Regions from separate parts of the Homo sapiens genome. Here all the other regions are linked to region 3. The links come from fine-mapping of genetic effects on gene expression. A gene starts in region 3. Each other region holds a variant in brackets. All regions are shown on one strand. Distances are between the middles of the regions.

The links.
Region 1: its variant is fine-mapped to the expression of LINC01352 in transverse colon (GTEx, PIP 0.99).
Region 2: its variant is fine-mapped to the expression of LINC01352 in fibroblasts (GTEx, PIP 0.95).

What each region holds. Positions count from the first base shown.
Region 1 is chr1:220,844,846-220,853,029 of GRCh38, forward strand. The region is part of intron 1 of HLX-AS1 (HLX antisense RNA 1); the gene reads right to left. Among named protein-coding and RNA genes, the nearest start is that of LINC01352, 20 kb to the left of the region's middle. The variant T/C (reference allele first, on the strand shown) is at 4,589.
Region 2 is chr1:220,873,868-220,882,051 of GRCh38, forward strand. HLX (H2.0 like homeobox) reads left to right here and starts at 5,576. Exons shown (of 4, transcript NM_021958.4): 1 at 5,576-6,582; 2 at 7,327-7,506. The coding sequence starts at 5,991. It overlaps HLX-AS1 (HLX antisense RNA 1), which reads right to left and starts at 6,273. Exons shown (of 3, transcript NR_046901.1): 1 at 5,982-6,273. RefSeq lists a silencer at 5,133-5,182 and an enhancer at 6,301-6,909. The variant C/T (reference allele first, on the strand shown) is at 4,583.
Region 3 is chr1:220,826,035-220,834,218 of GRCh38, forward strand. It overlaps LINC01352 (long intergenic non-protein coding RNA 1352), which reads left to right and starts at 3,221. Exons shown (of 4, transcript NR_110797.1): 1 at 3,221-3,408; 2 at 4,659-4,873; 3 at 5,108-5,349; 4 at 6,079-6,395. It overlaps HLX-AS1 (HLX antisense RNA 1), which reads right to left. Exons shown (of 3, transcript NR_046901.1): 2 at 6,984-7,158; 3 at 6,729-6,824. It also overlaps the pseudogene RNU6ATAC35P.

The DNA.
Region 1 (8,184 bases), 19 kb after region 3:
CATGGGACATTCTCCTTGGGCCCAACATGTGAATTTGCAACTCTAGGCTGATGCAAGAGAACGTATTCTAGCTATATTCACACCACTGGAATAATATTCACAGTCTGAATCAAGATGGTGGCTCAAGCACATGCCTGCTTTCCCTGCCCAAACCCCAATCCAGATATATATTCAACATACAGATAACACTGTGTCTTGGGAGGGAAATTCTGTGTCTGGGGGATACCAGAGTGAAGAGCCTACTTCTTTAGATATGCTTTTGTACATTTTCAAGGTTGAACTCTGTGAATATAACACTATTCAAAAATTTAAAATTAAGTTTAAATAAGCTAATTTTAGAGTATCAATATAAAATAAAATGGAATTTAAGGCCAAATGCATAAAAGGAAAAATGAGACATATTTATATTGATTAAAAGTATACTTCATGGCTGGATGTGCTGGCTCACGCCTGTAGTTCCAGCACTTTGGGAGGCTGAGGCAGGAGGATCACGAGGTCAGGAGTTCAAGACTAGCCTGGCCAACATGGTGAAACCCTGTCTCTACTAAAAAAACAAAAATTAGCCAGGCATGGTGGGCACCTGTAATCCCAGCTACTCAGGAGGCCATGGCAGGAGAATCACTTGAACTTGGGAGGCGGAGGTTGCAGTGAGCTGAGATGGCACCACTGAACTACAGCCTGGGCAACACGAGTGAAACTCCATCTCAAAAAAAAAAAAAAAGGACAGTTAACTAAGAAGTCACTTAACTTCATGAATCTAACAACTTCGAAATATACAAAACTGATAGAAATATAAGGAGAACCTAATGATGCATAAAAAATAAGACTACACAAAAAGAAGGTATTATATAGTAATAGCATTTGAATAACATACACATATCTCATAGATATATGTAAAAGTTGGTATTCAAAAAGACAACACATTTTAAAAAACATACAGAAATTTACAAAATCAGTTCATATGTTGAGCCACAGAGAAAATATCAACAAATTCCAAAGTAAACAGGGTCATGCAAGTTGCATTCTCCTAGTGCAAAGCAATAAAAATGGAAATTAATGAAAGTGCTAGCCACATAAACACACACATATAAATCTGTCCACTTGGAAGTATAAAATATCCCTCTATGTTCTTGGGTATAAAAGCAAAGCAAAACTATTTAGAAATAAATTATGAGAACTCTTATCAAAATAAATGGGACATAATCAAAGCAATACTCAGAAGAAATTTTGCAGTTTTAAAATGCATTTTTCTTAGAAAATAAAAGATTGAAAAATAATGAAAGCATTCAACTTAAGAATAATAGCAAAAACAAAATTAATAAAGTTAAAAAAGAAAAAATAGAAAATATTATGTGCACATATATTAAACCATTTTAAAAGGAAAATATTGTGTGTCCTTGGGATTTCTTTTGTAGAATACATTAAACTGGATAGATGTTGTCAAATATTTATTTAAATAAAGTATTGGCCAGGTGTGGTGGCTCATGCCTGTAATCCCAGCACTTTGGGAGGCCAAGGTGGGCAGATCACGAGGTCAGAAGATCGAGACCAGCCTGGCCAACATGGTGAAACACCACTTCCACTAAAAATACAAAAATTAGCTGTATGTGGTGGTGCATGCCTGTAATCCCAGCTACTCAGGAGGCTGAGGCAGGAGAATCGCTGGAACCTGGGAGATGGAGGCTTCAGTGAGCTGAGATTATACCACTGCATTCCAGCCCGGGCAACAGAATGAGACTCCATCTCCAAAAATAAAAATAAATAAGTATCAGTAAAGATGATTTCTGGTGTGTTTTGCATAAAATATTGCTAGGATTAAATTACAACACAAGTAAAGGATTTGATGCAGTGCTTGTACCAGAATAATTACTATTTAGCTGCTATTATTACCATTAAATATCTTTTTGTGACAGGAAAATCACAGAAGAAGTTCATTTTAGTGTTAAAAAATTTTTTTTTAAATTTACTGGACTAAAACCTGCTTTCATATTGTCTTTCTCTCATTCGCTCCGTTAATGGTTACCTTACTCCTTGTCTCTACTCCCCCAATCTTAAAACCTGAATCACGGTACTCTTTTTCATACAGGACACATTTTCAAATATACGGTGAAGAAGGATGGGCCATTACACATGTGCATAGTTTTCACTTCTCTTATCAGGTGAAACATTCCCAACTGTTTATTTTTCCTTACTTAAATGAAAAGGAATCTAGGTCTTCCACCTTCTTTTAAAAAATATTTTATTTTTTATGGATACATAATGGATATACATATGGATGTACATGTGGTAATGTAATACCTTAATATAATTTGTAAAGACCAAATCATTGTAATTAGGGTATCCATCACCTCAAATATTTGTCTTTTCTTTATGCTAATAACATTCAGATTATTCTCTTCTAGCTATTTGAAATATATAATGGGGTACTGTAAACTGTAGTCGTACTACTCACCTATCAAACACTAGGTCTTATTTCCTATGTCAAACTGCATATTTATACTCATTAATCAACCTCTCTTCATCTGCTCCTACTCACTACCTTTCCCAGCATCTGCTAATCACCAATTTACTCTCTATCTTCATGAAATTCACTGTTTTTGCTCCCACATATGAATGAGAACATGTGATATTTGTCTTTCTGTGCTTGACTTACTTCACTTCACTTCACATAATGACCTTCCATCCATGTTGCTGCAAATGACAGAATTTCATCTTTTTATGGCTGAATAGCATTCCACTGTTTATATATACCACATTTTTTTATCCATTCATTCACTGATGGGCACTTATGTTGATTCCATATTTTGGTTATTGTGAATAATGCTGCAATAGACATAAGAGTGCAAACATCTCTTCAATATACTGATTTCATTTCTTTTAGATATATACCCAGTAGTGGAATTGCTGTATCATATGGTAGTTCTATTTTTAGTTTTTTGAGGAAACTCAATACAATTGTTATACTGGCTGTACTAATTTACATTCCCAAACACAGTGTACGAAATTCCCATTTCTCCATATCCTTGCTAGCATTCATTATTCCTCGTATTTTTGATAAAAGCCATTTTAACTGGGGTGAGATGATATCATATTGTGGTTTTGGTTTGCATTTCTCTGATAATTAGTGATGTTAAGCATTTTTTCATATACCTGTTAGCCATTTGTATGTTTTCTTTTGAGATATTTGTGTTTAGGTCTTTTACCCATTTAAAAATTGGATTATTTGTTTTTTTGCTACTGTGTTGTTTGAGGTCTTTATATATTCTGGCTATTCAATCCCTTGTCAGATGGATAGTTTGCAAATATTTTCTCCCATTCTATGGGTTATGTCTTCACTTTGTTGATTATTTCCTTTGCTGTGCAGAAGCCTTTTAGCTTGATAATCCTATTTGTTGATTTTTGTTTTAGTTGCCTGTGCTTTTGAGGTCTTACACAAGTAATCTTTGCCCAGGCCAATGCCATTGGGCATTTCCCCAATATTTTCTTTGAGTAGTTTTATAGTTTCAAGTCTTAGATTTAAATCTTTAATGCATTTTGTTTGAGTTTTGTATATGAGGAGAGATAGGGCTCTAGTTTTTTTCTTCTACATATGGTTATTCAGTTTTCCCAGAACCATATATTGAAGAAATTGTCCTTGCCTCATTGCATGTTCTGGGCAACTTTGTTGAAAATGAGTTGGCCATAAATGCATGAATTTATATCTAGGTTCTTTATTGTGTTCCATTGGTCTACATATCTGTTTTTATGCCAATACCATGATGATTTACTTACTATAGCTTTGTAGCATATTTTGAAATCAGGTAGTGTGATGCTTCCAGCTTTCTTTTTTTCACTCAGGATTGCTTTGGGTATTGGGGGTCTTCTGTGGGTCCATATAAATTTTAGGATTCTTTTTTCTATTTTTGTGAAAAACGTCATTGGTATTTTGATAGGGATTGCATTGAATCGGTAAATTGCTTTGAGTAGAATAGTCATTTTAACAATACTAATTCTTCCAACCCATAAACTGGAATGTCTTTCCATTTTTGCATTTCCTTTTCCATTTATTTCTTCAGTATTTTATAGTTTTTCTTGTAGAGATCTTTACTTCTTTGATTAGATTGAGTCTTAAGTATTTTATATTCTTTGTAGCTATTGTAAATGGAATTACTTTCTTGACTTCTGGGGTATATAAGTGCTACTGATTTTTGTATGTTGATTTTGTATCCTGCAACTTTACTGAATTTGTTTATTAGTTCTAATCCTTTTTTGGTGGAGTCTTTAGGATTTTCTAAGTATAAGATCATGTCAACTGTGAACAAGGCTAATGTGACTTCTTTCTCTCAATTTAAATATGATTTATATTTCTTTTTTGCCTGATCGCTCTGGCCAGGATTTCCAGTACTACGTTGAATAAAAGTGGTGAAAGTTGGCATCCTTGACTTGAAGTTGGCATCCTTGACTTGTTGCAGATCTTAGAGGAACGGCTTTCAATTTTTCCCTGTTCAGTATGATCAGTTAGCTGTGGATTTGTCAATGTGACCTTAATTACTTTGAAATATGTTCCTTCTATACCCAGTTTGTGGGTTTTTTCCTCATGAAAGTATGC[T/C]GAATTTTATTACTTTTTCAGCATCTATTGAAATGACTATATGGTTTTAGTCCTTGGTTCTGTTAATGTGATGTATCATATTTATTGATTTGCATGTGTGGAACCGTTCTTCTATCACTGGGATGACTCCCACTTGATCACAGTGAATGTTCTTTTTGATGAGTTGCTGAATTCAGTTTGGTGGTTTTTGTTAAGAATTTTTGCATCTATTTTTATCAGTAATATTAGTCTACAGTTTTCTTTCTTTTTGTGTCCTTGTCTGATTTTAGTATCATTTTAGTATCAGGGTAATGCTGGCCTCACATAATGAGTTTAGAAGGATTCCCTCCTCTTCAACTTTTTTTGGAAGAATTTGAATAGAATGTTTGGTATTAGTTTTTCTTTAAATGTTTGGTTGAGTTTGGTAGTAAAGCCATCAGGTCATGGCTTTTTTAAAAAACATTTTTTTTAATAGAGGCAAATCCTTGCTCTTTTGCCCAGGCTGGAGTGCAGTGTTGTGATTATAGCTCACTGCAGCCTCGAATTCCTTGGCTGAAGTGATCCGCCTGTCTCAGCTTCCCAAGTAGCTAGGACTACAGGCATGCACCACCAAACCCAGCTACTTTTTTTTTTTATTTTTATGTTTTGTAGAGACGGGTTCTTGCTGTGTTGTGCATGCTGGTCTTGAACTCTTGGCCTTAAATGATCCTCCTGCCTTGGCCTCCCAAAGTGCTGGGATGACATGCATAAGCCACCACGCCTAGCCTGGGCTTTTCTTTGTTGGGAGACTTTTTTATTAAGCCCTCTATCTCATCACTTGTTATTAGTTTGCTGAGGTTTTCTCTTTCTTCATGGTTCGATCTTAGTAGGTTTTATGTGTCCAGGAATTTATCCAGTTCTTCTAGGTTTTCCAATTCATTGCTCTGTGGTTGTTCATAATAATCTCTAATGGTCTTTGTATTTCTGTGTTCTCAGCTATCATGTCTCCTTTTTCATTTATAATTTTATTTATTTGAGTCTTTTGTTTTTCCTTAGTCTGGCTAAAGATTTGTCATTTTTATCTTTTCAAAAAATAGACTTTTAATTTTGTTTATCTTCTGTATTTTTTTAGTCTCAATTTCATTTATTTTTACTCTGATCTTTAGTATTTTTTCCCTTCTATTAATCTTGAGTTTGGTTTGCTCTTGCATTTCTAGTTCTTTGAGGTGCATTGTTAGGTTATTTATTTGAAGTCTTTCTGCTTTTTTGACATAGGCTTTCATTGCTATAAAATTCCTTCTTACTATTGCTTTTGCTGCATCCCATATTTTGATATGTTATATTTCCATTTTCATTGTTTCAAGAAATTTAAAAATTTTGTAATTGACCCTTTGGTTCTTCAAGAGCACGTTGTTTAATTTTAATGTGTTTGTGCATTTACTGAGGTTCCTTTTATTATTAATTTCTAGTTTTATTTCATTGAGATAAGAAAAAATACTTGATATGATTTCTACTTTTTTGAATTTGTTGAGACTTGTTTTGTAGCCTAAGATATGTTTTTGTAGCCCAAGATACAGTCTGTTCTTCAGAATCTCCCCTGTGCTGATGAAAAGAATGTGAATCCTGCAGTCATTGGGTTAAATGATCTGTTATTGTCAGGCTTATTTGTCTAGTTTGTAGTTTAACTCTGATTTTCTTTGTTGATTTTCTGTTAATGATATCTCCATTACTGAGAGTGGGTTGTTGAAGTTGTATACTATTATTGTGTTGAAATCTATCTCTCCCTTTAGATCTATTAATGTTTGCTTTATATACTTGGGAGCTCCTATGTTGGGTGCATGCATATATTCTCTTGGTGAACTGTCTCCTTTATCATACATAGATTTTCAGTTTATATTCTCTTGCTGAATTGTCTCTTTTACCATATATGGTGACCTTCTTTGTCTCGTGGACTTGTAGTCTGTTTTGCATGATGTAAGTATACCTATTCCTGTTCTGTTTTGGTGTCCAGTAGCATGCAATATTTTTTTTCACTCTTTCACTTTCAGTCTATGCATGTCATTATAGGTGAAGTGGGTTTCCTGCAGGTAGCACAAATTTGGGTCATGTTTCTTTATCCATTTAGCCACTTTATGGCTTTTAATTGGAGAATTTGAGTCTATTTAAGTCAGTATTTTTATTGGGCAGTAAGGACTTACTAGTGCCATTTTGTTGCTTATTTTCTGGTTGTTTTGTGGCTTTTCTCTTTCTTATTGTCTTCATTATTGGTTATTTTCTCTGGTAGTATGTTTTAATTTGTTGCTTTTTTCAAAAAGTGGATCTATTATAGGTTTTCACATGTGGTTATCATGAGGCTTACAAAAATCATCTTATAGACATAACAAGTTATTTTAAAGAGATGATAACTTAGATTACAAAGAAAAGAATAGAAACAAACAAATCAAGAAAAAATGAAAAAACTCTCTAATATGTTAACTGCAAATGTGGGGACGTCTATATTTTGACTTTATGTTGTCTTCATTTACATATTCTTATGTTGCCTATCTCTTAACAGGTTGCTGTAGATATTATTATTTTTGATATATTTGTCTTTTAGGCTTCATACGAGAGCTATGAGTGGATTGCACACCAAATTACAGTAGTAGGGTATTCTGGGTTTGTCTGTGTCCTTAATTTTACCAGTGGATTTTATACCTTCAAATGTTTCCTTTTTGGACTTCAGTGTTTTTTGTTCTTTCAGCTTGTTTGAAGAGGTCCCTTTACCATTTCTTTCTTTTTTCTTTGAGACAGAGTTTCGCTCTTGTTGCCCAACCTGGAGTGCAGTGGTGTGATCTCGGCTCACTGCAACCTCTGCCTCCTGGGTTCAAGTGATTCTCCTGCCTCAGCCTCCTGAGTAGCTGGGACTACAGGTGTGCACCACCACACCCCGCTAATTTTTGTCTTTTTAGTAGAGACGGGTTTTCACCATGTTGGCCAGGATGGTCTCGATCTCCTGACCTTGTGATCTGCCCACCTTGGCCTCCCAAAGTGCTGGGATTACAGGCATAAGCCACCGTGCCCAGCCTCCCTTTAACATTTATTGTAAGATGAATTTATTGATTATGAATTATTTCCATTTTGTTTGTGTGGGAAAGACTTTTATTTCTCCTTCATATGTGAAAGTTATGTTTGCTAGATACAATATTCTTGGATGACAGTATTTTTCTTTGAGCACTCTGAACATATCTTACGTCCTCCTGGCCTATATGGTTTCCATTGAGAAGTCTATTGCCTGAGGAATTGAAGACTCTTTATATGCTATTTGTTTCTTTTCTCTTGTGGTTTTTAGGATTTTCTCCTTGACCTTGACAGTTTGATTATTATGTGGCTTTGAGTAGTCTTGCTCAAGTAGAATCTCTTTGGTGTTCTCTGATCTTCTGGTACCTGGATATTTATCTCTTAAGTTTTGAAAAATTTTCTATTATTATTTCTTTGAATAAGCTTTCTACCTCTTCTTGCTCAGCTCCCTCTTGAACACAAATAATTTTTAGATTTGGCCTTTTGAGATAATTTTCTATAACTTATAGATGATTTTCCTTCCTTTCATTTGTTTTTCTTCTCCTGTTTTTTCAAATAGCCTGTCTTTGAGGTTACTGATT
Region 2 (8,184 bases), 48 kb after region 3:
GTTTGAAATCAATACACATTCTGATTAAGGGCAGAGAGTTTTTCCTCTGAATAAACCATTTCCCCTGAAGAAATTGGCTGGATGGTATAATACCGGTTGATGAACCAGAAAACCTAGCCTCTGTTCCCTCCAACACCATTTCCCAACTACGTCACCTTGGGCAAGCCACTTAACCTTTCTGAGGATCAACTTCCTAAAGTCAAATGGGATAATAATCCCTCGTCGGCATCCTACAGTTGGTTATTTTAAAAAAGTGAGATAATAAATGTGAATTGACCTTGAGATCTGTAAAATGTACACAGTATTATTCCTGAACCATGACTGCTTCCCTTGCCCGGTCTAGTGATTTTAAGCACACAATACAAGATCTTCCCATATTGTTGCAATATGGAAGGAAACAGCTGCTAGTCAAAGCCAGTTTTAGAAACCTGCATTTTTGCAAAAGGAAGAGTCAACTTTCATCATAACAATGTTGCTGGCACAGGATGGTTACTGCCATAAAACAATGTAGAGATGGTCCAGCAGGTGTCAGCAGAGAACCAACTTTCAGTACTAGGTGGGCTCCTCCAGGGAGGGAGATGCCCGGGCCTGGTGGGCTGGGACAGGGCTGGGGGGACTCCGTCATTAAATCCAGGGCTGTCCCAGTTCTGGCGGGTGCTGGTAGGCAGATTGGGACCACTGAGATGGGGACAACAACCCATTGGCTTTATCTGCAAAATCCCTCTCATTGGCTCCAGGATCCTCTCCCTTCAGAAGATCCCTTCCCATGACTGTTTTTTAGTCTGGGCCTGAGTCCCTCTTCTGGCCCTAGAACCTGTGCTCTAACTTGAAAACCTGTCTCACAGGGAAGAAGGTTTATTTGTTTGTTTAGAGAAATACTGCTTTGGGAATGCCTTTCATCCCTGTCTGTTTTGGATATATGTTTTTCACCTACTCCTCCTTCTCCTACCTTAACAACCAGCCATTCAGATTCAATAATTCAGGCAACAAATCCAAGGTGAGTGGCTAATGTATGGGAAGTGGGAGAGCACTGTTTACAGCTACTAAATAGAAGCCCGTGCAATGAAGTATGTAAGCTCATATATGCTACAGATAGTCTCTCATATTTTACTCTTATGATTTCATTGCAAATGTATATGAGTCTGTTATAATGTGCCATGTTGAAATGGGTTCTGCCATAGGTTTTATGAGATTTGGGGTCTTTCTTGGCTGGATGTAGAGAGGATGACTTGGAGAGGCAGAGAAGCAGCTCTTTGAAACAGGAGCAAATCCCAAACTGCCTGCCTCCCCTCCCCTCCACATTTCTAAGATTCCCAGAGAGAGAGAGAGAGAGAGAGAGAGTGTGTGTGTGTGTGTGTGTGTGTGTGTGAGAGAGAGAGAGAGGTACATATATGTAAAGTGGTATATCTTAGTAGTGAGGAAGGGAAATATGTGAGAAGCCCTATGAGAGGAAAGGGCAAATGGAATCAGAGCCAAAAGGCTGTCTGAAACTTTGGAGCAAGACCTATGGATAAAGTTCAAGGGCAGGGCCACAGCCAAATAGAGAGCTGGCCACCTGCAAATCTGCCACATCTGGGAAATGGAGAAAAGGAAAAAGAATAAATCAAATAGCTATGGATGTTTGTAGCCCTATTGCATTATTTGCTTTTCCCACCCCATAGCAAAGTCCAATTCTTCTCAAAAACTCAGAAATTCTGGAATAACTCTAAGGTCTCCAAGGAAAGAGAGTTGTGTCCTACTTAGAATAGGCCAAAGTATGCGTGTGTGGGTAGGGGGTGTGTCTATGGGGGATCATTAGAGTCCTAATCTCTAGTATCTGGCACCCACAAAGAACAGAACTCCCATATCCACCACTAAGTATGACTGCTGGGACCAGTGATCCATAAGTCTCCAGCTGGCAGAAAGACAGGCACAATATACACAGATTCCTACGTTGCTGCAAATTTCTTGAATTCTCAAGTAGCTGGATAAGCTGTGTTTCTTTTTCTTTCTGATTGTAAATATTTAATTATTTACATCTCTTTTCTTGAAGCCAGTAGGTACCATGTTTGCAAGAATATTTGAAATTAAGAGGAGAGGGGTTCCGAAGTCCACAGAGCAACTGCCTTGCACATTATTTTACCCAGAATGCACAAGAAAAAGCAACACAGATAGCAGATATAGCCAGTTCAAGTCCTTGAAGAGTTATGGTCCTGTAATATACAAGGCCCAGCATTCACTATAATTGACCTGTGCTCAGTGTGGATCTGTGACTCTGGTTTTGGGACAAAAGTCTGCACTGATGATTTAAATATGGAGGCTCCAAAGACAGGTAGAACCAAAGGATGGTGAAACCCATCTCTTGCCTCAGTCATTGCATAAGCCCCTGATTCAGGACCCTTTTAAACCCTAAATCCCCATAAGCTATATTGTTAAATTATAAAACGAACCTTCTCTGATCTTATCCATTCCCAATATGGTGAAATCGTCTTTGGCTGTGTTTAACTAGGAAAAGTGAAGGGATGAGTTGAAAGCATTAAAAACAGCAGTCAGCATGATCAGAAACCCCAGCCAATGCGATATTTTCCAAAGAAAAGAGGCCACAGTTAGGGTCTCCGCTGCGTAGACCAAGCTCAAGTTAATTCGGTTTAGCCAGGCCCTTTTCTTTCCTGTTAAATTCTCAACCCCCATGGCTACCAGCCCCTGGGGAGCCCTCGCCTCTACCCCCAGGACCTCCCTGCCCGGCTCAGTAGCTCTGGGCCAGTTCATTTCGCCACAGCCCGGAGCCTCTCGGAAAGCAAAGATTAAAGGGGAAAGTCGCAGCTGTATATTTATATTTTCATTGCTAGAAGGGAATTGATTTCCGTGCATTTATTTTGGTAGTTGTAATACATAAGGGCGGATTTGCGTCACCCGAGCAACTTGCCGGTGGAGATAAAGTTGCACAAATATTGAAAGGGGAAGTGCTAGGAGTCATTATAGAGTTTTTCTCCGGAAGAAATAAGGATTTCTGCAGTATCCTAAAATACTAAGGCCGCTTCTATTTTGAGACCAATCTCGCAGGCACATCCGCTCATTTAGTCCCGAGTTTGAGCCCATCAAAAAACAGGAGATGACCTGAACTCCGGCGAGCCCAGGGTTTCCTGCTGCTTTCTTGGTTCTGAAGAGTGGGGAGTAAGGAGGGCGGGAGTCTGCGGGCTCAGAACTCGGCGAGGGGCCTGCAGGGGCCAGGCTTGGGCCTGGGGAAGGGGTAGAGGGGGCGGCGGGGGTCGCTCCAAAGACTTGTATTTCGCGTTTGCCTCCGGGAGCTGGGAGTAAGGCCTTGGATGGCGCCGACGCGGTTGCGAGGAAGCTGAGGCCTGGGAGAGCAAGGGGCGCGCAGGCGAAGTTGCAACTTGCACTCCAGCCGCGGGCCTGGCGGAGAAAGGGAGGCTCGCGGCGCCGCGAGGAGTCGGCGGGCCTCGGGGCCTCGCTTTCGCCGCATCTGCCCAGCGCTCCGGGCCTTGAATCTCGGCAGATGCGAGTTGTGGGCACCTAGGGAACCCTGAGGACTCGCATTCCCCCGGGTCTGTATCCCGTGCCCACCCCGGAGCGTCGCAAACCTTGGAAAGGGTGAAAGCTGATAGGGGAGTCTTATTTCTTAAGAGAGAGGGTGAGGGCGCGCGGCGCTGCCTCGGGTAAGGAGTAAATGCACCTCTTTCACAACCGTGAGTTTGGGCTTAGGCTGAGGTCTAAATGTTTGCAGTCAAATTAGAAACGCAATCAAACTGGAAGTGGCACTAGAAAGCAGAGGGCTCACGGCCTCCGCTACGCACACTCCCACCGAAGGCTCACCAGAACCCTCAGCCAGCGCCTCAATTGCCCATGTTGTACTTGTCGCTCCTTTGCCTTCACCTTGACACAGAAAAACTGGTCTTAATACGTCTCTCGCCCCAGGTACCCCTACCTTCAGCCAAACACACCCATCTATCTCTGGAAATAGCACCTCTCTCCTGGTTGCGTGGAGCAGGGGAAGAAAACCTTTCAGTAAAAGAGAGATGGAGAGCGAGAGCGGGAGAGCTGGAGGGCGGGAGGAGGGAGAGAGAGAGGGAGAGGGAGAGATCTTAGTGCTGGCTGATCAGAAGTGATTGATAATTTTCCAGGAGAAAGTCAAAAGCTTAAAAGGATAGCATCTGCATCAAGGGGCTAGAGAAAACACCAGAAATTAATTTTATAAGCCCAAACCCTGAACTCGAGATAGGCATGGCAAGTTCACTTGCTTTTCTGGGTTTATTTGGTGAGGAGCCTTCGTGCTGAAGGGAAATAAAAATGTCACAGAATCCCTGTTAGGAGATGCTTATTAGGGCAATCGAAAACAAAAGTTTTCGTGGTTTCATTATTCGTATTATTTTATTTTCTTCCTGAAAATGTGCAAGAACAGCTCATCTGGGTGGCCTGTGGTTTGTTTGGGAGAGGGGTGGGGAAATTCATTCTGACTATAATTTAAAGAGAAGAAATTCTTAAAATAGATATGTCGATGTTGCACAAAACCTCCACCACCACTACCCTGCGTTCTAAAGACCCAAGGCACGAATGGAAGACGTTGACCACCACGCAGCTCCTC[C/T]TGCAACCAGGCCCAAGGGGTTCCTGGGGAAGCTGTCACAGAATTGAAAGCAGTATTGAACCCCACGGAAATCTGCTCTTGTGGGCACTTGCAAAACAACGAACCCCACGTGATCCGGAGATGTGGTGGAGGGGTGAGGCTAACATTTCCTACAACCTCCTGCAAAGGATGGAAGCGCGTGCCGCTCTCCCGGGTTTCGGGAGGCAGCCTGTTTTGTAGCCTCTGAGGCTCCGGGGAAAGGTTTGGCTGCGTCTAAGAGAGACGTTTGGAGCCATCCGTCTTATTTTGTTTGAAAAGTCACTCGTTCAATTTGTCACTGTGTGACAGCTCAGAATAAAACCAATTTGCGGCCGCCCCTCCTCCTCGCTTCCCGGAGGATCTCCTGGGAGGCACGAGGCGGACGCGGTGCTGAGTTGGGCCGGGACTCAGGGCGGCAACATTTGGGCAAGGGCCCAGGAAAGATGAGGGGCTTTGCCGAGGACACGGACTCCTGGAATAAAAGCAGAATGAGGTCAAGAGAAGGGAAGCAAAGGGGCCAAAGCGCGCTCCGCTCTCCACCGGGAGGCGGGCTTTGCAGAGCCCTAAAGAGTGAGATTACCGTCCCTTCCCCACGCCCCCAACTCGCCCCGGGTGACAAGCGCTTCAGGAAAGCTCCTGTGATCAACCCTCCTTGCCCCGTGGCGGTTCGGAGCTGCAGAAGTTAGAAGAGAGTCAGAGCCCTCCGGAGCGGCTGCCTGGCCCCTACGCAGAGTAGCAAGAAGCACTGCGATGTGCGCTACTAAGCCCACGCGGCCGCAGCAAAAACTTTGGCGTGGCCGGGGCGTGGCTAGGGTCCGGCCAGGCCCCCTTGTTCCTAATTCCCCTCCACTCCCCGCTCCCATTGGTCACGAGGATGACCAATGAGCGCTCGGATCGAGGTCCTACCCCGGGCCTGACTCGAAAGCTCCTGCCAAAACTTTGGGAGTTTTTAGAGACGAGTTTTTTTTTTTTTCTATTACTTTTCCCCCCCCCTAACTAACGGACTATTATTGTTGTTGTTTTAAATTTAGCTCTTAGGGCTTAGCTATTTGGGTTTTCTTGCGGTGTCCGGCTCCCGTCTCCCTGGCTCCCCCGCCCGCCCTGCGGCCCCAGCGCCCCTCGCTCTCATCCAGCCCGCGAGGAGTGCGGGCGCCGCGCCGCCTTTAAAGCGAGGCCAGGGAGCGAGGCGGTGACCGGCCGAGATCCGGCCCTCGCCTCCTCCCTCGGTGGCGCTAGGGCTCCCGGCCTCTCTTCCTCAGTGCGGGCGGAGAAGCGAAAGCGGATCGTCCTCGGCTGCCGCCGCCTTCTCCGGGACTCGCGCGCCCCTCCCCGCGCGCCCACCCACCCAGTCCGGCTGGACTGCGGCAGCCGCGCGGCTCACCCCGGCAGGATGTTCGCAGCCGGGCTGGCTCCCTTCTACGCCTCCAACTTCAGCCTCTGGTCGGCCGCTTACTGCTCCTCGGCCGGCCCAGGCGGCTGCTCCTTCCCCTTGGACCCCGCCGCCGTCAAAAAGCCCTCCTTCTGCATCGCAGACATTCTGCACGCCGGCGTGGGGGATCTGGGGGCGGCCCCGGAGGGCCTGGCAGGGGCCTCGGCCGCCGCCCTCACCGCGCACTTGGGCTCGGTTCACCCGCACGCCTCTTTCCAAGCGGCGGCCAGATCCCCGCTTCGACCCACCCCAGTGGTGGCGCCCTCCGAAGTCCCGGCTGGCTTCCCGCAGCGGCTGTCTCCGCTCTCAGCCGCCTACCACCACCATCACCCGCAACAACAACAGCAGCAGCAACAGCCGCAGCAGCAACAGCCTCCGCCTCCGCCCCGGGCTGGCGCCCTGCAGCCCCCGGCCTCGGGGACGCGAGTGGTTCCGAACCCCCACCACAGTGGCTCTGCCCCGGCCCCCTCCAGCAAAGACCTCAAATTTGGAATTGACCGCATTTTATCTGCAGAATTTGACCCAAAAGTCAAAGAAGGCAACACGCTGAGAGGTAGGTCTTGGGCGGGAGGCTGCAGGCCTCTGACCACTGACCCACTCCCCGGACCCCGGGCTGGCTTGGGGTGCCTTTGAGTGTTTTTACAATTAAGGACAAATCGGTAAAACGGGAGAGAAGAAAACGAATTGTAAGAAAACTACAAAACATTAGGTCTAAAACTCACCTGTTCTATGTAAAACAAACAAAAAATGACTCCAGGGATTCTTTAAAAACACGTCTTAGAATCAATATTTATAAAAGTGGTTGGTGTAATTATCTGCTAACATGACTTTGATCTCTTTAATAATGTATCTAGAGACAGAATTATATTTTCTGACAGCTAAAGCATTTTTGGGAAACACTTTCGCACTTATCTGATTTCTAGTAAAAATTTCACCCAGGAAATGTAAATAATAAACAAAACCGCCTAGATGAGCGGGCAGAGTGGGGCCACCTTGGGGCGGAGGTTTTGCGTCTGTGGCGTTCTTGGAAGACACGTGAAAGTGAGGCCGTAAGCCGATTTATGTAAAGCCTTTACTTACTATATACATGCATATGGACGTGAGGGACACACAGGAACTTTTCGTGCGTCGCTCCTTGGCAACTGTTGGGAGAGAGAGGTTTCAGCGCCTAGACGGGTTCTCTCTTGACTTCGCTCAATAAAAGTGAATCCAGGGCAAGGGGAAGGGGAGGAACAAATCAGCGGAGAGTGTGAGTGTGCCCGAGATGTAACCTGCTATCCTTTTCCCTTGTCCCCAGATCTCACTTCCCTGCTAACCGGTGGGCGGCCCGCCGGGGTGCACCTCTCAGGCCTGCAGCCCTCGGCCGGCCAGTTCTTCGCATCTCTAGATCCCATTAACGAGGCTTCTGCAATCCTGAGTCCCTTAAACTCGAACCCAAGAAATTCAGTTCAGCATCAGTTCCAAGACACGTTTCCAGGTACGGAAAAACTCCAGAGTACTGCCTAACGGGCGAGCCGACTAACAGTCAGAAATCTCAGGACTGACGCCTCCAGGGCTGCCACGGTGTCGCAATCTCACAATTGGGGCGGGAGGCTACGGAGTCAGGAGAGAGAAACCGAAAGATTTCTCAGCGAGCTAGCGCTCGCTTCGGATGGTTCCCCTTGAAAAGGGGTAGAGGCGCCTGGAGATCCCAGAAAGTGTGTGCGTGGACGGTGGGGTGGGGGGCTTTCTCGAAGTCTTTTCGCCCCAGAGGGCTTGAAAAATGCAGCATCAATGTTGCTTATTAGCATATACACATTTTGGGATGACCTCAAACACTTGTGCTTGGCGAGTTTATGTCTGGGTGCCTGGACACATGCGGGAATAAACACACACACACACACACACACACACACACACACACACACACACACACACGAGATAATTCAATTCAGGGCTGTCATCATTCAGGCCCAAGGGACATTTTTGTCTACTCTTCGTAGGCCTGATGGCCACGCATGAGGTTTATGTTTTTCTCTTGGAATTAAAGGACAAGCCGCCAGGCTTCTCCACTCCACGCTCGCTTTAGGTCTTCCGACTGTCGTGTAAAATTCCTCCTTAGAGGGGCCATTCGGTGTATGTGCGAAGGGCTTTCTGAATGAGGGTGGAATCGACA
Region 3 (8,184 bases):
CAATAAAAAATTATGTGTGTCTCACATTATATTTCTATTGTGCAATGGGTGTTTAAAGAGGTAGAGGGTGTGGCTTTGCTTACAATAGTGTCTCTAGAATGGGGAAGAAATTGAAAGATACAATGATGGGATGAAGACTGCAGGAAGGGGTTGGAATTCTTTTCTCTCTCCTTTTGGTAAAAGTATGAGCATATATTTAAGTTTCCTGCCTTCTTTGCAGTCTGTCCCTGGGGGCCCCGACCTCTTGCAGCTCCTGACTCTTGACAATGCCTTCTTGTTGATCTCATCTCACTTTCCTCCACACTTGGCCGGCTGCCCACCGCTGTGTTTCTCTCTGAGATAATCCTGTCCCTATGATTCCTCTGGTTTACGTGGTGTTAAGGTGTTAGGGATCTTGACAGTTAAAAGTAACACAGAACACCCAGATCAGGCTCCACAAGCCTCCCCAGCCTCAGGCATTGCTGATGAAGAAAAAGTAAAGTCTTCTGTGCATCTCTGGAATCAGCTTCTAAAGAGTGACCCCTGGGAGGCAAGCCTGATGTGTGGTGCTCAAAGTCGGGACAGTGGTTACACTGGGTGGGAAGGAGGTGGGCGGTGATGGGGCCAGGTGCAGACAAGAGATTCTGGCCATGGGAAATACTCTGTTATTGATCTGGTGCTGATGACCCAAGTCTGTCCACTTTGTGAAAATGTATTGAGCTTGCGACTTGTGTACTTGTCTGAATGTGCATTACACATTAGTAGGAAGTTAAAAAACAGAACACATCACCCTGTAAGGCACATATGTTTCTGAGTGAAAAGCTAGCAGCCTGTGGTGAGCGAATGTGGTAGGGTGGGGACATGTTCTATGAGAATGGCCATCAAGGGTCCCCTTCCTGTGGGGACCTGGATTGACGATGCCTGTCAGAGTCCTGGAGGGGTGGGTTCTGCAGGTCCGTCCCACAATCCAGTCCCCAGATTAGAGATTTGTAAGTGGGTGACCCGCCTTGGAAAATTCCCCTCAGCACCTCTTATGTCTCTTGGCTCTCCATGTGGGGCACCCATACACATACAGAGCAGAACAGACCTGATTTTACATTTATCTTTTACTTTTTTTTAGAGACAGGGTCCTGCTCTGTCACCCACGCTGCTGCAGTGCAGTGGTGTGATCACAGCTCACTGTAGCCTCGATCTCCTGGGCTCAAGCAATCCTCCCGCCTCAGCCTCCCAAGTAGCACATGCCTGGCTAATTTTTAAAAATTTTTTTGTAGAGATGGAGTCTCCCTGTGTTGGCCAGGCTGGTCTCAAACTTGTGGCCTCAAACGATTCTCCCATCTCAGCCTCCCAAAGTGCTGGGATTACAGGCATGAGCCACTGTGCCCTGCCTTTTTAAAAAAATGTAAATTCTCAGTCCACAGTGTTGAGGATGTGAGAGTGAAGGGCTGCTCATCAAGAGGCTTGCTTAGTTGTTGAGTGTAGGTAAGACACTTAAAGAGAGTCACATTCTTGGGAGAAACTAAGATTCTTCCCTTGCTGTAAGAGGACACCATAAGAAGCCAAGGGTTGGCTCTGAACAGAGGGTCAAGCCAACCAGGCCCTGCTGTTATCACCTACGGAAATCCTGTGTGGCAGTAAATACAGTCCTCAGCAAAGCCTGGAGAAGAGATTACAGGGGGCACAGAGGGGCTGGGGATGCTAATGTGGAGGTTATTGGCCAGATAGTGGCCAGGAAACCAGAGACTAGGGGGGGTTCAGTTGGAGGAGCATAGGCGGAAATGGGAGAGAAAAATAAATAAATGAGATAAGCAACTTCATTTGCTTCCTCCCTTATTACTCTTTTGTTTTGTGTTTAGGACTCTGGTCTCCCCTGAGGTTGATCTCTTCTTCTGGGGACAACAGCCTGCAGGGTGATTTTGAAAAGCAGGCTCTGACTTCTACTTCCTTGTCCTGTACTCACCCCACCTGGTGTAATTCACCGTAATGCAGTGAACTTCCACATGGCTGCTGGGCATGCTTCCCAAAGCCAGCCCCTGGGCAGGGTTTCCCTTAATTTAGACCCCTGTCCCTACCTCTCCAAGTGCAAAGTGTACAAGGCTACACGCCCAGCTGCCCCCCACCCCCATACACACACTGGAGAGACCAAATGTTTGAGATCACTGTTGGGTAGCTGGGTCAAGAGAGCTTCATAACAATGTTGTTGGCATGTGGAGAGCTTTTCTTTTTCTTGGATCCCAACTGGAAATTATCAGCTTCGCCCCATGCTGACATGCGAATGTCCAGGCCTGCCTTTCTGCTGCAGGGCAATGCTCCAGGTTACAACATCGACACCAAGCAGTTTGTTGAGAAAACTTTGGACCTCATGAGCTGGGCAAGAGCGGCCTGGCAGGTGGTAGGAGAGCAGCCTGTCCATGCCTCAGCTGTGGCTCCACTGGCTCTGTGACTGTGCAGATTTTCTAACTTTTGAAGACCTCTGTTTGGATATCCATAAAATAGGTAAGATGGTGCTAATACCTACCTGTGATGTTGTGAAGATTTAATAGCATAATACTTAAAAGCACTTTGCATACATTAGCAAAGTGCCTAAATATTAGTTATTTGGCGGAGGCTATTAACCAGTGTGCTATGAGGTGCAAAGTAAGTTGTTACCAATAACTCAAAGAACTCCAGTTTGCAAATGTTTTACTTTTACTTAAGAGAATCTTTGCGGGAGAATTAAAACCAATTAATTCCCACCACTGGCCAAGAGCTCATGCTGTAATTATCCAAGACAGAATAGCTCAACAGAAAACCAAGTCATGCAATTCTGAGCACTTGTCCTTGGGATGCCACTTTGGGGCTCCCATATCTGAAATCATTTTGTTCTCAGTCCACCTGTGTGACATTTCTGTCCTGCTCAGCCACGGGTTCACAATAATCAAGGGAATGACCCAAGGGATTCACTTCTTCCAAGCAGCCGATGCCTTTGGAAGTTATGTTGACATTGCTTGTTTAAACCTAGGGCAAGAAATCCTTTCTCTGCCAGACCTGACTCTTCAGGCACACTCCTCAGTTTGGAGACGTGACTTGCCATGTAGTACTGAGAGGGAAAACAGGCCAGAAACAGCCTTGTTGAAAACTTCTTTTCTGCTTAGCTGCCCTCTGAACAGTCACCATAAAGATTGTGAGGTGCTGGAGCCAGGGATGACCTCATAAAGCCCTTTGCTAAATACTTAGTGAGCTGGTACTGTGGGCCAGGCACTGTGCTCATCATGAACAAAACCAAGGCAGACAACACTGTCATTAATGGAGCTTATCATGTAATACGGAAGCCTGGGATAAGCAACAAATTACACAAGTGACAAATGTGATGAGTGCTGTGAAGCAGAGTGCGGGGTGCCCAGGGAATCAGCAGAGCCCTGGAGGATAACAGCCTGAGCTCCAGGAAGGAAGGTTGTGGTGGTGCTTAGGGTCAGAGTGGGGACAAGCATTCCAAGCAAAGGGAAAAGCACATACACATGCTATATTAGTCAGGTTTCTCTAGAGGGACAGAACTAACAGGATAGATGTATAAATGAGGGGGAGCTTATTAAGTAGTATTGACTTGCATGAGCACAAGGTGAAGTCCCACAATAGGCTGTCTGCAAGCCGAAGAGCAGGGAAGCCAGTCCGAGTCCCCAAACCTCAAAAGTAGGGAAGCTGACAGTGCAGCCTTCTGAAGGCCCCAGAGCCCCCGGCAAACTGCTGGTGTAAATCCAAGAGTCCAAAAGCTGAAGAACTTGGAGTCTGTTGTTCGAGGGCAGGAAGTATCCAGCACGAGAGAATGATGAAGGCTGGAAGACTCAGCAAGTCTACTCCTTCCATGTTCCTCTGTGTGCTTTTATTCTGGCTGTGCTGGCAGCTGATTAGATGGTGCCCGCCCAGATTGAGGGTGGGTCTGCCTCTCCCAGTCCACTGACTCAAAAGTTAATATCTTTGGCAACACCCTCACAGACACATCCAGGAACAATAGTTTGCATCCTTCAATCTAATCAAGTTGACACCTAATATTAACCATCATACATCCCCTCCATGGGAAGGAGCATGATGCCTTATATAGTCTACTACCCTCAAACCAATCCTACTCCCTCATCCCCAACACCTTCTTCCCCTGGAACTCTAGATAGAGTTTCTTGACTAGACACATAAGCACAATTAGGCTATGCCTAATTATGAAGCCATCCCGGTTTATACATTTTCTTGTTATACTTGCCTATTTACAAGTTTTTCTTGTGAAAACTTGCCTATTCTTTTTGCTGCCTCCTCTCCACCCTAAAAGAGAAACTCTAAGGAAACACTCCCAGAGTTTATTATAGTTATTATGACTCAGATTTGAAGACTAGAATTTAATGGAGGTTTTCCTAACATTCCTTGGGGACTTGAAGGACTTTTTTTCCCACCAGCCACAGAAGTAAGATTATAAAACATTTATTTATTAAAAGAAAAGAAATCTTCTGGGCTCAAAGTTCTAGTTATTCTAAAAGCAGAGCACTTGTTCCATGTTTTCATATCGCCTCCCCACACCTACCTCTCCTCTCCCATTCTCTATTTCTTTATTTCTGTGCTGTAGTAATAAGCAAAACAGAGAAGCAATTGGTTTTAGTCTTGGATCTTGACCTTGCTGTGTGGCCTTGGCCAAGTCACTTCCCCTTTCTCAGCCTCAGTTTCTTCAAGTGTAAAATGAGAGATTGGATGGATCAGAAGATTCAGGCCTCCTTGAAAATCCCCATGGGTGAACCCCAACACACAGGCTATTCAGCCAGCAGCCCCAAGTCCTTTATGAAAAGCCAAGGTTGATTGAAACTCTCCCTTCTCAGGAGAGAAACTAGAGGCAAAGCTTCCTCATCAGCAGAGATAAACTTGGCAGGAGCCAATTCAGGTACCAGTAAAGGATATCTTCTTCTGCAGGCCAGCCTCCCTCTCTCCAGCTTGGTTCAATCCTGCATTCATTGACACTGCACTTCTATAAGCCCTTAGAACTCTGGGAATTCTCTCCTAGTTTTCCTAGGTATGCTTGCTGTTTCTACATGGGTTTCCTGTGAATGACCAGACCAATAATCAAATGCCTCCAGGACCCATAACACAAATGAGAAGAGTTCTCTCATTATGACAGGTAGGACCATGGCCAACTCAGGGCTCGTGCTTGATCGAAGGGGATCTGTGTTAGTCAGCATTCTCCAGAGAAATGGAACCCATTGGATAGATATGTAAAGAGATTTATTATGGGAGTTGGCTCATGCAATTGTGGAGTCCTAGAAGACCCACCACCTCCTGTCTGCAAGCTGGAGAAACAGCAAAGCCAGTGACGTAATTAAGTCTGAATCCAAAGGCATAAGATCAAGGAGAACTGATGGTGTAAGTCCCAAAGTCCAAAGGCTTGAGAACCAGGAGCTCTGATATCTAAGGGAAGATGTCCCAGCTCCGGAAGACAGAATTCACCCTTCCTCTGCCTTTTGTTTTATTTGAGCCCTCAATGGGCTGGATGATGCCTATTCACATTGGTGAGGGTGGATCTTCTTTACTCAGTCTACTGATTAACACCTGTTCCAGAAACGCCCTCACAGGCACACCCAGAGATATTGTTTTCCCAGCTATCTGGGCACCCCTTAGCCCAGTCAAATCAACACATAAAATTAATCATCATAGGCTCTAAGTTCTACTTAGCTCCAACCAGTTGGAGTCATTTTGGAATAAGTGTAAAGTGTTTTCAGATATTCTGATCTTACAAGTGAAGCTGGAAATTAGCATTTTTAAGTAAAGATGACTCAATTAAGAAAAAACAAAAACAAAAACCATGGCACGAGCAGAAGACGGTGCATCAGATTCAGGCCTGTGGTTGCTGGTTGGTTACCTGTGGGTGTAAGCAAAGTACTGGGTCCTTTCCCATTCTAGACTATATTTACAAAATCAGTAATGCTTAGCTATGCATTCTTTCATTTAACAATTATTTGTCAACTACCATGAGCTGGTATTATGTAGAATGCTGGTAAAATAGATAACTAAGACCCAACACATGTGTAAATGAGAATGAGTGTGATATAATCAATGTCTCCTGGGCTAGGTGTCTCTTTTTTGCTTCCACAGCACCTGTGTATACTTCCATTATGGCATGTAACATGCTGGCAAGAAATTGATTCATTGGGTTGTGTCTTCTCAGCTGCCTGAAGAATGAAATCATATACTCTAGTTTCATATGCCCAGCATTGTACACAACTTGACACATCACAGCAGCTCTAGGAAAGCACATAGGCTGACAACTGAGTGAACAACCCACTGACTGTGTGTCGTTCAGGGTTGGGAAAGCAAGGGCAGGTCTCTGTGCCCCATCTCTAGCTTTTCCTCAACTTAGGCTTTATAAACCCTTGCATCAAAAAATAAAAGCTAAGGCTAATTGTTTCAAATTAGGCTATCTTATTTCTACCCAGTAACTTCCCCACCACCAAGAAAGGAGTAATTTAAAGGAGCAAACTGTAGAAATAAATAGGAATAAAAGCATTACCTCTGAAAGCCAAGGCCATTAATTCATTAAAAAAAAAAAAAAAATCAAAGCCCGGGCGTGGTGGCTCATGCCTGTAATCCCAGCACTTTGGGAGGCTGAGGTGGGTGTATCACCTGAGGTTAAGAGTTTAGACCAGCCTGGCCAATGTGGTGAAACCCCATCTCTACTAAAAATACAAAAAAGTTAGCCAGGCGTGGTGGCAGGTGCCTGTAATCCCAGCTACTCGGGAGGCTGAGGCAGGAGAATCGCTTGAACCTGGGAGGCAGAGGTTGCAGTATGTCGAGATCACACTATTTACATTCCAGCCTGGGCAACGAGAGCAAAACTCCATCTAAAAAAAAAAAATCAAGATGAATAACATACTCTTATGTAACAGGTGAAAGTCTTAAAGGACTTAAAGGAAAGTCTTAAAGTAAAGTCTTAAAGGACTTCACTTCATGTGTGAATTCTCAGTGTAATGGAAAATCCATTGGTTTAGGAATCAGATCACCTGGCTTTTAGTCCACTTCTGCAACTGTGAGATCTCAAGTAACCTACTGACTCCATCTGGGCCTCAGTTTCCTTCACTGTAAAGTGAGAGGTAATTGGAGGATCTCCAGAGTTACTTCTGGGTCTCATAGACTGTGCTTCCTGGCAACCAGTTGCCTCTTCTGAGACCACCTGGCCTGGTAGGAAGAAAAACACAAAGAAATATATGAGTAAACATAATCATGCCTCCTTCTGCAACAGTAGCCATAACTCTGCTCTCCACAGGACAAAGGAATGAGTAATAGTGCAGTTGAAATCTCATCTACTTCCCTCTTCTTCAAGAACCAAGGGGCTGCTCCAAACATCTTGAAATGCAACATAAAACACAAACAGACCACACCAGAGACCAGATCCAGGTTTTAACAGCACTTTGATGCTTGGCAGATTTCTCTGGATTTGTTTTTTAGGCTGACACACAGCGCCTCTCCGTTCACCCTGCAGCATTCTCTAACTGGGACTTCAGAAACCCATTAGGAAAAGGAGTGCAGGGTGTGGAGTAAGGGAAGGTTTGGATGAAAGGCTAGGAAATGCTCCCTCAGGGGAAGGGAAATCTGGCACCATCAATAACTTTAAGTCTATAAAATTATTTTCTTCTGGGACTAAAAGCTCACATGATACACTATATTTATCACTCACTGAATCTCATTGTCTTATTCAAAATTTCCACTTCCTACAGTTAACTTCTTTTGGCCCATGACCTGTCACATTTCTTTTATGGCTAGTATATTGAATTTCAACTATCAGCAGTCATTTATTAAAAACAAAACACATCCACAGAAAACCAGGCAGACACAGCTTGATTAATAACAAGTCGGTGCTTTCCTCTCATACTTCTTTCAGGTTAGAGAAGTTGGAAAACTGCTAATGAGTCTTCTGTACCTTTTAAAGAAATGTCTTAGAGTAATCTTACAATTAGGAGTTTCCTATGTCAGGTAGAAATTAAATGCTTTGAAAGCTTCCAGTTTCAAAAAAGGTGGTGAGCTAGCACAGGATATTGGCTTCCTCCCAAAGCCCAATCTTGAAGTGAGAGGAAGTTGCCAGATCCTGAAAATGAAGAGAAAAGCTGTAGAGATTTTCATGGTGAGGGTGGGAGACATGGTAAGGGTGAGACTGGGGGAGGGCAAAATGTCACAGACACTTTGGGTGTGATGAGTAATTTTATG